Regions from separate parts of the Homo sapiens genome. Here region 2 is linked to region 1. Evidence: fine-mapped expression QTL. A gene starts in region 1. The other region holds a variant in brackets. All regions are shown on one strand. Distances are from middle to middle.

The links.
Region 2: its variant is fine-mapped to the expression of HS3ST1 in subcutaneous fat (GTEx, PIP 0.97).

The regions. Positions count from the first base shown.
Region 1 is chr4:11,427,077-11,429,922 of GRCh38, reverse strand. HS3ST1 (heparan sulfate-glucosamine 3-sulfotransferase 1) reads left to right here and starts at 1,029. Exons shown (of 2, transcript NM_005114.4): 1 at 1,029-1,224. RefSeq lists a silencer at 884-1,063 and an enhancer at 1,154-1,373.
Region 2 is chr4:11,263,274-11,266,182 of GRCh38, reverse strand. All of the region lies in intron 1 of LOC105374488 (a long non-coding RNA gene), which reads right to left. Among named protein-coding and RNA genes, the nearest start is that of MIR572, 100 kb to the left of the region's middle. The variant G/TG (reference allele first, on the strand shown) is at 1,231.

The sequences.
Region 1 (2,846 bases):
GCTTTTGGCGGGGTATGATTGCTGACCTGCCTTTGAGGGCAACTTCCTTTGGCTCAGGTAAGCAGGCAAACCCGTTTCTCCAAGGCGATTCCAACCCCACGCCCCTCAAAACCTTAAATCTTAAATTGAGTTATTGGGTGCAGGTCCTTTCTCCCACAGAACCTCCCAGCTTCCGGAATAGAGGAGCGGGGCAGAAATATCCTGCTTTTTATTTCAGAGCTGACGTTTGCAATCCTAGTGCACTAGCGGAAAAAAAAAAAAAAAAAAAAAAAAAAAAAAGCTGAATTTTCCGCGCTCTCCTGGCAAATTGGCGTCCGCTCTCCGACGCTAAACCAAAGGAAAAGGAGTGTTCAATGGCGACAGGGCGCTCTTTGAAGCCGGCTCCTCACGCGGATTCTGGCCCAGGCCGCCGCTCCGGTCCCAGTCCGGCTGCAGAGCGAATTGGAGAGGATGGCACCTCCTGCTTCCCGGGGGGCGGAAGGAGCGCCAGCGCCTAAGGTGGGTCACCTGCCAGGAAGGGAATACGCATGGTGCAGACTCACGTGGGAGGAGCACAGGTCCCGGGTACAAGTGCCGAGCTGGCGACTTAGAGAAGAGGTAGACTCGGGCTCAGACCAAGCAGGCGTAAGGGAGTAGACGGGACGTCCCGTGTTTGCAGTGACGGCGGAGTCACCCATCCCAGCAGCCTCACCTTCTTGGAGCGCTGGTCCCTCCCCTTGGACTGAAACCCCAGGGGCCACCGCACCGGGTGGGCGGGACCGACTACTACCCGACCAGCCGCTGGAGCTGCGTGCCAGGCGGGGCTGTGCGGAGCAGCTGAGCGCAGAGCGGAGCACCAGGCACCTAGCGGGCCGGACTCTGGGCGGCACCCGAGCGGGCCGGGCAGCAGTGGGCGCTCGCGATCCTCCTCTGCCCAACGCGCTCTCCCTCCGGGCCCGGCCTCCTCCGTCCCCTCCTTTTGCTCCCGCTCCTCCTCCCGCTCCTCCCCCTCCTCGGGATTGAGCACCAAAACGCCCGCCTGCAAGGTCCTCTGCGCCCTGGCAGCCAGGAGTCGCCGCCACGACAGCCGGGTCTCAGTGGGTGCCTGCGCCTTCTCCCCGCCCGCCTGCCCCGGGCCATCCAGAAACTTGCTCTACCCGCCGCGGGTGCTCGGCAGTGCTGCCCATGGCCCAGCCTAGGAGCCTATTTAGGGCGCCGGACGGGCTGGACAGAGGCGCGGCTCAGGTGAGTGCGGCGCGCGCGGGGTGGGAGAGTGGCAGGACGCAGGTGTAGAGGGCTCCGAGGTGCCTTTGTCTGGCGTTCTGGACTTCGGGCAAGTGCAGAACCTAAGAAGAATCGAGGCTGGAGCAGGTGGAGTGGATGCAGAGGGAACCAGGAAGCAAAGGCTGGGGATTTTCCCATCCTCCTCACCTCCTGCCCTAGCACCTCTGCTCTGGAAGTCCCGAGGGACCGGTTGATCTGTAAGGACAGGGACCCAGATTTCTGACTCTTACTGGGTTGGATGTTTTCCCCCCCTGCAGAGTCGTGAGGTTCGCTCCTGCCGGCCGCTTCGCGACCGCAGCTTCACCATAGGACCCTGTAGGGCAGCGAGAGCGCAGCACTCAACGGATCCTGGGTACCACCTGGGGCCAGAAACTGGGGCGAGGACACAGCCCGCAAAAGTAACTCGGCTGAGGGAGCCTTTGGGGGTGGAGAAGCCTTGGTCGGGTTTGCCTTTGCATTTGGTTGGAGATAGGCATCTCCCAAAGAGAGAGATTGAGGTGACAGCCCTGACAATAAACCTCTCATCCCTAATGCCAATTACATGAGGGTCTTGATTTTTTTCTTGTTACTTTTTACTGATTTTTTTCCCCCTTCGTGGTTTTCTATTTCCGGGCCCTTGGGTAGTGGCAGCGGATGGAGGTGAGGGATGGCGGGGTGCGAACCCGCGGTTGGAACGCCTAGACCCCAGCTCCCAGGAAGGGTCTTATTCGCGGAGCTTGACCTCTCCAGGTGCGCTCTACCAGCCAGGGGGCGGACGGCGCGCTGCTCCTCCTTCTAGCCCCAGCCTGTCCCAGGAAGCGGAGGACAGACCCAGAACGTAGGCGGATGATGGGAAGAAGAAGCTGGAGCCAAAGCCGGGTGCCGGCGCGGGATGGGGTGTGCTGGGCTCTGCAGTTATAGGTCTATAACTCTGCAGTTATAGGCGCTATAGGTCTTCCATCTCTTTCCCTCCCCTGGGAGCCAGCGATTCCTCGCACACTCAGGGCGCTCTCTTGGGCCAAGGGTTGCATCCTCCCTCTTCCTCCTCCTTTGCAGATCCAGTGGTACCCTTGCCTCGCCTTGCGCGAGTCTCGCTCCTCCCTTTCCCACAATGTTATCATGAGCTATTTTTATCTACAACTTGTGCCAAGATGCTTTTGGGGGGATTCTAGGGAGGCCACTCCAAATCCACTGTCTTTGCGCTGCGCTCCGAGAAACAGTCTCCTGTTAGCATGGAGCAGCCTCAAGGAGTGGCGGGGAGGGTGGCCGAGAACGGAAGGAGCCAGTCCGCCCTCTTCTCCTCCCTCAGCCCTAGCCCCGGAGGGAAACCCCGCCACCACCAGCTCGGCTGCGCCTCCCGCCAGTAGCCCCGGAAGAGGGTCCCCAGACGAGTCCCCACGCTCCCGCTTTCAGGCGCTGGGTGCTTGGACACTGCTGAGGCAGCAGCCTGGCACAGGCAGGATCCTTCATTCCCACCCGTGCGTTCTCGCTTTGCAGGCAAATCTCATTTTATTTTGTTGAAATGCTTCCACCCAAGGGTTAATTCCAGGAATTCCATCTTTAAAAAAAAAAGAAAAAAAAAGGAGGGAGAAATAACCCAACTT
Region 2 (2,909 bases), 160 kb after region 1:
AAGATAGCCACACAGAGGACAGGTGAAGGGGATCCCAGCAGTGAGGGGGGATCCCCCCAAAATGGCAGTGCAGCAGGTCTGGGTGGCAACCGCTCAGACTGTGGCAGAGTGGCTGAGAGTGCAATGGGGAATATCTCACAAGAAACAAAACCAAAACCGACAAGCAAACAGTAGTCTCGCAGGTTACTTCCTATTGCGATAAGCTACACTAAATGTTACCGAATTTGATTATACCCGAAAAACATTGTACGGTCTGTCATAATGTTGGGTGTTAAATTAATAGTTCATTTGTTTTCTCTCAAAAAAGCATATAAGGAACAAAACAATTTGGGCTTAGAAAAGTGAACTATATGGAAAGAAAATGTAATGAAGTTTGCATAAGCTAAAGACTGTAAGTGCTGAATACTGTTTTATGTGAAACAGCTGCTAAAACTATGTTGAGCTGATGAAAGAGATGGAGTTGGTGGAGGTCTATGTTTAGGATAAGAAGGGACATGGTATTTCATCTCCCTCTGTAGCATATCAATAGATAATATCAAAGGCCATAAAGCAAATCATGGCCAGTCTGTTCTCCTGCAACATGTGTCTCTGGAATAAGAATTGCTTTGTATGTGTTTTTCACTCATATATGCAGAGATTCTGTTGGTCCATGGGAGAGTTTTTTTCAGTAGTTATTTGGAATTTATCAAAGGTAAACTTTCTTAAAATTTAAGAGGAAAGCGTTAGCAATATGCAAAGATCTTAAGAAAGAAAAAGATGAAAACTTTTATTGAAGTGCCTTCCTTCAGGAAAAATTGTGACATTTTAGTGCCTTTAATAATTACTACAATTTCCATTAACTGAAGGTGTAGGGGGAAGCTGAGGAGATGTTGATGAAGAACGTACAAGGTCATTTCTCTCTGTATTAGGAAAAGATTGATGATGAAGTCTACCCCTTGAGAAAGATTTTTAATTTTGATGAAACTGGTCTCTATTAGAAGCAGATGCCCCCAAGTATTAACATTTTGAAGAAGAGAATAAGAGCTCCAGTGTGGTAGGCTGCACAGGATCCAAGCACTGTGTTGCTGGATGAAAATGACACTGGAGATTTATTTGTGTGACTCATTTTATTACGTTTGATATGTAGTTGATGCTCCACATTTCAAAGTTTTGAGTGGTCTGCCCTCAACCCTAGTTTGCTCATAAATCTGTTATTTTTAGCCCTCAACTTCTGGAACTCTCAGCCTTTTT[G/TG]GTAATATATTTGCCATCACAGCAAAAATACTTGTGCTTAGAACTATGGAGATAAATGCCAGAAGAAACAGCTAAAATAGATTAAAGTATTGCCTTTGGAGAATAGTAATTGAGAATAGGGAGGTATGAGAGCATGGGAATTCTCTTTTCTTTAAAAGCCTACTATGTATAACTTTGATAAAAATAAATTTTAAGTACAATAATAACTTCTAATGAAAAAGACTTGAGCAAAGAACACTATATGTCTAGGAATATAATGCATGAAACTGACATCCCACTTAGTAATATCATTCAGAAATACTGAGCAGATCTTAACAAGCAGTCTTTAAACATATAGCTGAGCCCTTAAGAAAGTAAACCACAGACAAAAAATAAAGAATTAAAAAACAGGGTTGCAGGTGTGGGGCTCAGCTCTCTGATGGGACAGAGAGGAAAGAAGAGTTGAGAAGTTGTTTTGAAGTCTCAGCAAAGAAAGACATTGGGGCTGGGACTCAAACATAAAGCCAAGACCCTCAAATGGCTTTGCCACAATTAATTGACATCATATCTGTCCTCACACTTAAAATTGACTTAAAAACATCCTTGTCTATCTTTTATTTTGGCCAGGACTGTATATAGAAGAAAAAAATCTCACCTGAGATTTTTTGCTATAACTCTGCTCTTGTGGATGTTTGAGAATTAAATTTATACTAGCTCCTTCAGCTAATAAATTAGACCAAAATGTGGTCCCAGGCTGGTGATACTCTGGGGTGTCTGGCAACGGCAAATTCAATGCATATCCTTACCAAGGCCACTCAAGAGACCACATGTAATATCCAGCTGAATGTGGGTTCACATCACAAAAGTACAAAATCCACCAAGAAATAGTCCAATTTTTAGCATTTCAACAAATGCTTATCAAGACCAATTCTGTGCCAGGCATTGATCTTGGCACTAGGATAACAGCAAAGAAGAAAAAATTAAAAAAAAAAAAAATTCCTCAGAGGAACTTATATTCCAGTCAAGGAGACAAAGTGCAGACCCAGCAAAAACTTCGACAGAATTAAATTCCCCAAACTTTAGAGAGTAGAACTATTGGATAACCTATGAAATACAAACATTGCTGAAAGAGAACACTAATGTATACATTAAAATAACTAAATAGAAACAAAAATGAAAAATGCAATCATTGAAATAATAACCAAAACCGATTTTGAGTGATGGTTTAAACAGCCAATTTAACAGAGACGAATGTAGAAACTGGCAAATAAATAGAAGAAAACTACTTGGAGTGCAGTAGGTGATATCCTGGGGTGCCTAGACAAAAAGAAGAGACAATGTGAAAGACAGTTTGAAATTCGAAGAAGGGAATGAAAAGGTCCAATTACTCTCAAGAGAATGAGAGAGATAATATGCAAAAAATACAATGAAGTGTTATTCAGCCTTAAATATAAAAGAAGATCCTATCATTTGGGGGGACATAAATGAAACTGGAGGACATTATGCTAAGTGGAATAAACCAGACAGAAAGAAAGATACTGCATGATCTCATTTATCTGGAATGTAAACAAAAGTTGAGAGCAGAGTAGAAAGGTGATTACCAAGGGTGAGAGATGGGCTGTGGAGAGATAGTACAAGGAATACAAAGTTGCAGTTATGAGGAGAAAGAAGCCTAGAGATCTAAGGTATCGCATGAAGAC